2 separate regions of the Homo sapiens genome follow, and region 1 is linked to region 2. The links come from fine-mapping of genetic effects on gene expression. A gene starts in region 2. The other region holds a variant in brackets. All regions are shown on one strand. Distances are from middle to middle.

Region 1 (2,899 bases), 42 kb before region 2:
TGCCACCCCTCCCTCTGCCCCACGAATCCCTTTCCACTTTCATTGCCTCTTGAACTTGAGTCCATTCCCAACTTTCTTCCAGCCACATGTCTCCTTTTTGTCTCCCACTAGTCCTCTCCCCTAAACTCCAGACTCGAATATACAACTGCCTACTTGAAATTTCCATCTGGGGCCAGGCGTGGTGGCTCACGCCTGTGATCCCAGCCCTTTGGGAGGCTGAGGCAGGAGGATCACCTGAGGTCAGGAGTTCGAGACCAGCCTGGCCAACATGGTGGAACCCCATCTCTACTAAAAATAGTAAAAATTAGCCGGGCGTGGTAGTGGGTACCTATAATCCCAGCTACTTTGGAGGCTGAGGCAGGAGAATTGCTTCAACCTGGGAGGCGGAGGTTGCAGTGAGCCGAGATCACGCCACTGCACTCCAGCCTGGGCGACAGAGAGAGGGACTGTGTCTCAAAAAAAAAAAAAAAAAAAAAAAAATCCCATCTTGGGTGTGGGATCTACCATCCGACTCATAACATGTTCAACAGCCCACTTCTCAAGCTCCCTCAGCCCCTCACACGCAGCCTACTCCTCTTGGTCTTCCCTGTCTTAGCTACATCCCCCTCTTGCTTGGTCAAAATCTTGGAGTCGCTGTGGACTCCATGTTCTCACACCCTGATGAGTCCTGACACCACATCCTGGTGGCTCCACTATTTTTTGTTGGTTTTTGAGATAGAGGGTCTCACTCTGTTGCTCAGGCTGGAGTGCAGTGGCACGGTCATAGCTCACTGCAGCCTCAACATCTTGGGCTCAAGCAATCCTCTTGCCTCGGCCTCCAGAGCAGCTGGGACTATACGCGCACCACCATGCCTGGCTAATTTTTCTATTTTTATATAGTAGAGATGGGGTTTCACCATGTTGGCCAGGCTGGTCTCCAACTCCTGGGCTCAAGTGATCCTCTCGTCTCTCAAAGTGCCGGGATTATAGGCATGAGCCACCTCACTTTGCCTGCCACCTTTAAAATGTATCCACAATCCAAACTCTTTTAACTCCCTCCTCCGCCACCCTTGCGTCCAGCCACCTGCCTCAGCCCTCAGTCCCTACAGTCTGTTCCCCACAAGTCCCCCAGAAGGCGCAGGTCAACACCTTGGGCAGTTTGGGTCCCTCTGCTCAGAGCCTTCCTGTGGCTCTGGCTCAACAGGAATAAACACAAAGCCCTCACCGTGGCCCACAGACCTGCAGAGCCCCTTGCTCCCTCTCTGCCCTCACCTCCTGCACCTCCAGCCACACTGGCCTCCCTGCTGTTCCATGAACACACCAGGCTCAGTCC[G/A]ACCCTAGCACCTTTGCACAGATGGTTCCCTCCACCTGAAAAGCCCTTTCTCCAGGCAAGACCCGCCCCCTCATCGCCCTGTGTTTCAGGAGGCATGTTCTCAGGGATGTCTCCCCTGGCCTATTTCAACCACATCCACCCTGTTGAGACTTCCCCGTAGTCCTTTCCGGTCTGACGGAGCCCCACAGGCCTTGCCCATCTAACAAATGGCCACCTGTTCCCTCTGCCTGCCTGGTAGAGTGGGAGCTCCTGGAGGGCAGGGAGTTCCTGGAGGCCTGCTTTGTCCAGTGGTGAAAGTTTCCCTGGTACCCGCAGCTGACACGTGGCAGGTGCTCAGTGGATGCTTCAGTGGATGCTTTTTGAGTATCTTGGTAAATTGATTGCTCAGGCCCGCAGCCCGATTTAAGGTCCAACAGGGCAGAGCAGGAAGCAGTCAGGAAAGAGTGAGGATCTTGGCTCAGGTCACACAGCCAGGATTGGAGCCCAGGTCCCATGTTCACCTACAACACTGAGTAGCCAGGTGGCCTCTCTGGTCCAGCAGTATCACTGCCAGGAATGGATCTCACAGACACCCTCACACCTGTGCACAGACACATATGCGCGGATGTCCCCTGCCACACCGCCTGTAACCGAGATGCCAACAAACCCCAGTGTCCCTCAGTGGGTGACTTGATTTTTGTCCCCCAAATAGAAGAATAACAGCTGACATTTGTGGAGCACTTACTCAGAGCCAGTTGCTATTATATTTACCCAGTTTTTCCCCCGACAACCTTATGGGGTGTGCTCTCCTCTTATCCCTGTCATCCAGATGAGGAAACTGAGGCACAGGCAGGTAGGTTGAGCTTGGCCAAAGCCAGTGATGAAGTAACGCCAGGATTTGAAACCAAGCCGTCTGAGGGCAGGCATTTGTTTAAGGACGTTGCCTACCACTTTAACATGAGGAGGCTGGACACAGCTTGGTGTCTAAGACAGCAGAGCACGTGCAATGGTCAAAAAGAATCCAACTGTGCAGGCTGTGCACGGTGGCTCAGGCCTGTAATCGCAGCACTTTGGGAGGCCGAGGCAGGCGGATCACCTGAAGTCAGGAGTTTGAGACCAGCCTGACCAACATGGCAAAACCCTGTCTCTACTAAAAATACAAAATTAGCTGGGTGTGGTGGCACATGCCAGTAATCCCAGCTACTTGGGAGGCTGAGGCAGGAGAATTTCTTGAACCTGGGAGGCGGAGGTTGCAGTGAGCCAAGATCATGCCACTACACTCCAGCCTGGGCAACAAGAGTGAGGCTCCGTCTCAAAAAAAAAAAAGAGTCCAATTGTGCAAATATGTCTGAAAGAGTGTGGTGGCTGTGCTCATGGCAATACAAAACGGATATGGGTGTCGTGCTGACGAGGGGGTGGGCGCAGGGAGAAGTGGCGTATGGCTTGTGGCTACTGCTGTTTTTTTTTTTTTTTGAGATGGAGTCTCGCACTGTTTCCCGGGCTGGAGTGTAATGGCGCGATCTTGGCTCACTGCAACCTCCACCTCCTCGGTTCAAGTGATTCTCCTGCCTCAGCCTCCCGAGTAGCTGGGATTACAGGCGCCCGCCA
Region 2 (2,899 bases):
CCCGGGAGGCCGAGCTCGCAGTGAGCGAGATCGCGCAACTGCACTCCAGCCTGGGCAACAGAGTGAGACTCAGTCTCAAAAAAAAAAAAAAAAGAAAGAACCACTGGATTGAGGTCTGGCTGGGGCTGAGGCCACAGGGACAGACAGGCACAGGAGGCAACATCTCCCCAGAGTCCCAGCGTCTAGCTTAGGCAAGTGAGCGCGGAGCAGAAGAAAGCCCCCAAGGCTCAGCGCCTGCCTGGCGGCGAGACCCAGGTGGGTCACTCCGCCAGAGCTCTGCTGCTCCAGGGGCTGGGGTGGGTGACGGTCACCTCTTGCAGATCTCATCGGCAGCCTCCTGGCTAAAGAGCTGCTGCTGCAGAACGTTGTTGAGGGCGTGGACAGCACACAGCTCCAGGCGCTGCCGTTCGTGGTACACGGTGGGTGGGCTCGGCTGTGCTCCCGGGGCCTGGGACATGCCGTCCTCGGCTCCTGCTGGGGGTTGGGAGGGGGAGAAGGTCCTCAGGGGCCCGGGATCTAGAGGTCCAGCCTCCCAGCAGGCCTTTGGGGCATCGCCATTGATTGAGCTGGGACTCGGAGCAGCCCAGGAAGACACTGGGCCCCTGACCCCGCTCCCTGGCAGTCTCCTGGCAGCACACGTCCCTCCATCCCTTATTCCTATTCCTACGAAAAACGCTGTCTCTTCTGCTCCCCTAGCAACAGAAAACCACCCTCACCAGGTCTCTAAGTAAAAGGGTCCCTATCATGGTCACCTAGCAACAGAGGAACCTGCCTCCCCGTCCCTAGGTAACCAGGGCGCTCTGTGGTTACCTAGCAACAAAGCCCCCTCCCCACCGCACTAGGTAACAAAGTCTGTCCTCCGAGCACCTAGCAATAGAGAATCCTCCTCCCCTGTCTCTAGGTGATAGGGTCCCCTCTGGTCTCCTAGCAACAGAAGACTCCCCTTCCCCGGTCATGTAGCAGCGAGGCTCTCTGCTCTTGTCACCTGGCAACGGGGCCCCCTCCCCAGTCACTAAGCAACAGGAGTTCCTCTTCCTATCACCCAGCAACCAGGCCCCCTCCCCGGACACCAAGGAATGGAGCCCTTCGCCGACCCGCACCCCAGCCACGGCGCTCGCCCTTTGCCTGGCAACGCCCCTCACCCCGCCTGCCTCTCCGCTCCACCGAGCCAGGGGTTTCCGCATCCCCTTCCTGGGCGGCGGCTCTGGGCTCCGAGTGCGGGGCGGGCAACACCGCGCTGACTGGGCAGGCGGGACGGACTACAGCTCCCGGTGATCCCCGCGCGCCGGACTACGACTCCCGTGGGGCCCCGCGGGACTCCTGCTCCACACGGAACGCCCGGGCCGCGTGGCCCTGAAGTCGGCCGTCGGGCCTAGGAAATGCCGCACTACAACTTCCGTCGGGCTCCGCGGCAGGTCCCGGAAGTGCGCCTCAGAGGCCCTTCTTTCGCATACGGCCGCGCCCACTACTGCTCAGAGATTCTAGGAAACTTAGTAGGTAGGCTCTCGCGATAGCTTCCTGGCGCCGCGCTCTCATGGGTGCTCGCCCCCGGCGATGGCGTCATGCGCGGTGCGCAGACGCAGCGTGACGTCACACAAGGGAAAGGGATCAGAGACGCCAGGCGGTGCGGGGGGAGGCAGCGGTGATCTTTACTGAGTCAGAAGGGAGACCCTGGGGAAGTGGGGCAGGGCAGGGGTGGGATGGTGGTGGTGAGAGGCCAGGCAGATGATCTTGTCTCGGGAGGGAGGAGGCTTCTCAGCAGAGATGGATCCCCGGCCTGGAGGGGAGCTGGCAGCAGGCTGCGGGGAGAGGGGAATGAGCGAATGAGACAGAGGAGAGATGAGGAGACAGACGCCTGGGGGAGGCAGTGGTGGGAGGAGGGGACAGGGCAGGGGGGCGGTGGAGGAAGACCCGGAGAGAGCGGGACAGAGCCCTGGGGGTGGACAGAGACAGAGAGAGTCTCGATCAGAGGCGGGCACAAATGGAGACATCTACAGTGCCAGGATTCAAAGTCATGGAGAGAGGTTAAGGAAATAAAGGTCAGAAAGAAAGAAAGGTCAACAAATACAGAACCAGAACTGCAGAACTAGTGAGAGCCCGGGACCCCCAAGCTCTGCAGAACACAGGAGCCCAGGGCCGGGGGAGAGGGGCCTGGCCGCACCCAGGAGGCTCTGCCAGAAGGCCGTGACGGTGGCGGAGCCGGTGACCGCGCCTGGCTCGGCAGGGTTCTCTCTGCGGGTGTGCACAGCAAAGCTTCGGCCCGTGGGGCCCCGGGGTCCGCTCAGCTCTACATCCACCACGTGCATGTCCGTGAGGCTGGGACAAGAGGGGCAGTCAGTCTGGAGAGCCTGGACTCAGCCCAACACCCTGCTTAGCTCTGCTCACCTGGTATCAGCCACGAGCACCCCAATCACCCCATCGAAGCCCAGGCTGGGGGCAGCCAGGGCAGCCGCCGCCATGGTGTTGGAATTTCGCGGGGCAAAGGGGCAGAGCCCACGGACAGGGCCTTCGTAGAGCACAGTGCAAGGCCCAGGGCTGTGGGCTGCAGCCAGGGGTCCCTCAAGCCGGAAGCCATCGGGGTGTGTGGCCATGGTGACACGAAGGCTCTGGAAGCAAGAGCCCGGGTTAGGGGGAGTGGGGTCTTTGCAGGCCTCCCCTGGTTCCTGGGGAGCCCAGCAGGCCTCACCCGGAGGCCCCCAGCTGCATCCAATCTCCTGATGTCCTCAGCGCCCCACAGGGCCCCTCGGGCCACAAACACGGCGTGGTCCCAGTGCTGTGAGGCCTCCAAGAGCTGCCGCTCTGTGGTCTGGTCACTTAGAGCTGAGGGGGACCCCACCTGGGGTGGATGAAGGAGGGGAGGGTTGAGGTCAGGGAAGGATATCCACTTCAGGGTGGGGTG

Evidence for each region. PIP is the estimated chance that this variant, and not a neighbour inherited with it, causes the effect.
Region 1: its variant is the best candidate, but not a certain one, in a credible set for the expression of JOSD2 in whole blood (INTERVAL, PIP 0.88).

What each region holds. Positions count from the first base shown.
Region 1 is chr19:50,467,909-50,470,807 of GRCh38, forward strand. The region is part of intron 3 of GARIN5A (golgi associated RAB2 interactor 5A); the gene reads right to left. Among named protein-coding and RNA genes, the nearest start is that of EMC10, 7.1 kb to the right of the region's middle. The variant G/A (reference allele first, on the strand shown) is at 1,313.
Region 2 is chr19:50,509,975-50,512,873 of GRCh38, forward strand. JOSD2 (Josephin domain containing 2) reads right to left here and starts at 1,217. Exons shown (of 5, transcript NM_001270639.2): 1 at 1,143-1,217; 2 at 312-474. The coding sequence starts at 457. It overlaps ASPDH (aspartate dehydrogenase domain containing), which reads right to left. Exons shown (of 7, transcript NM_001114598.2): 4 at 2,687-2,836; 5 at 2,386-2,606; 6 at 2,162-2,316; 7 at 1,629-1,799. The coding sequence ends at 1,756. LOC124904747 (a long non-coding RNA gene) reads left to right here and starts at 1,444. Exons shown (of 3, transcript XR_007067300.1): 1 at 1,444-1,497. RefSeq lists enhancers at 1-397, 398-904, 1,399-1,518, 1,822-2,411 and a silencer at 1,069-1,198.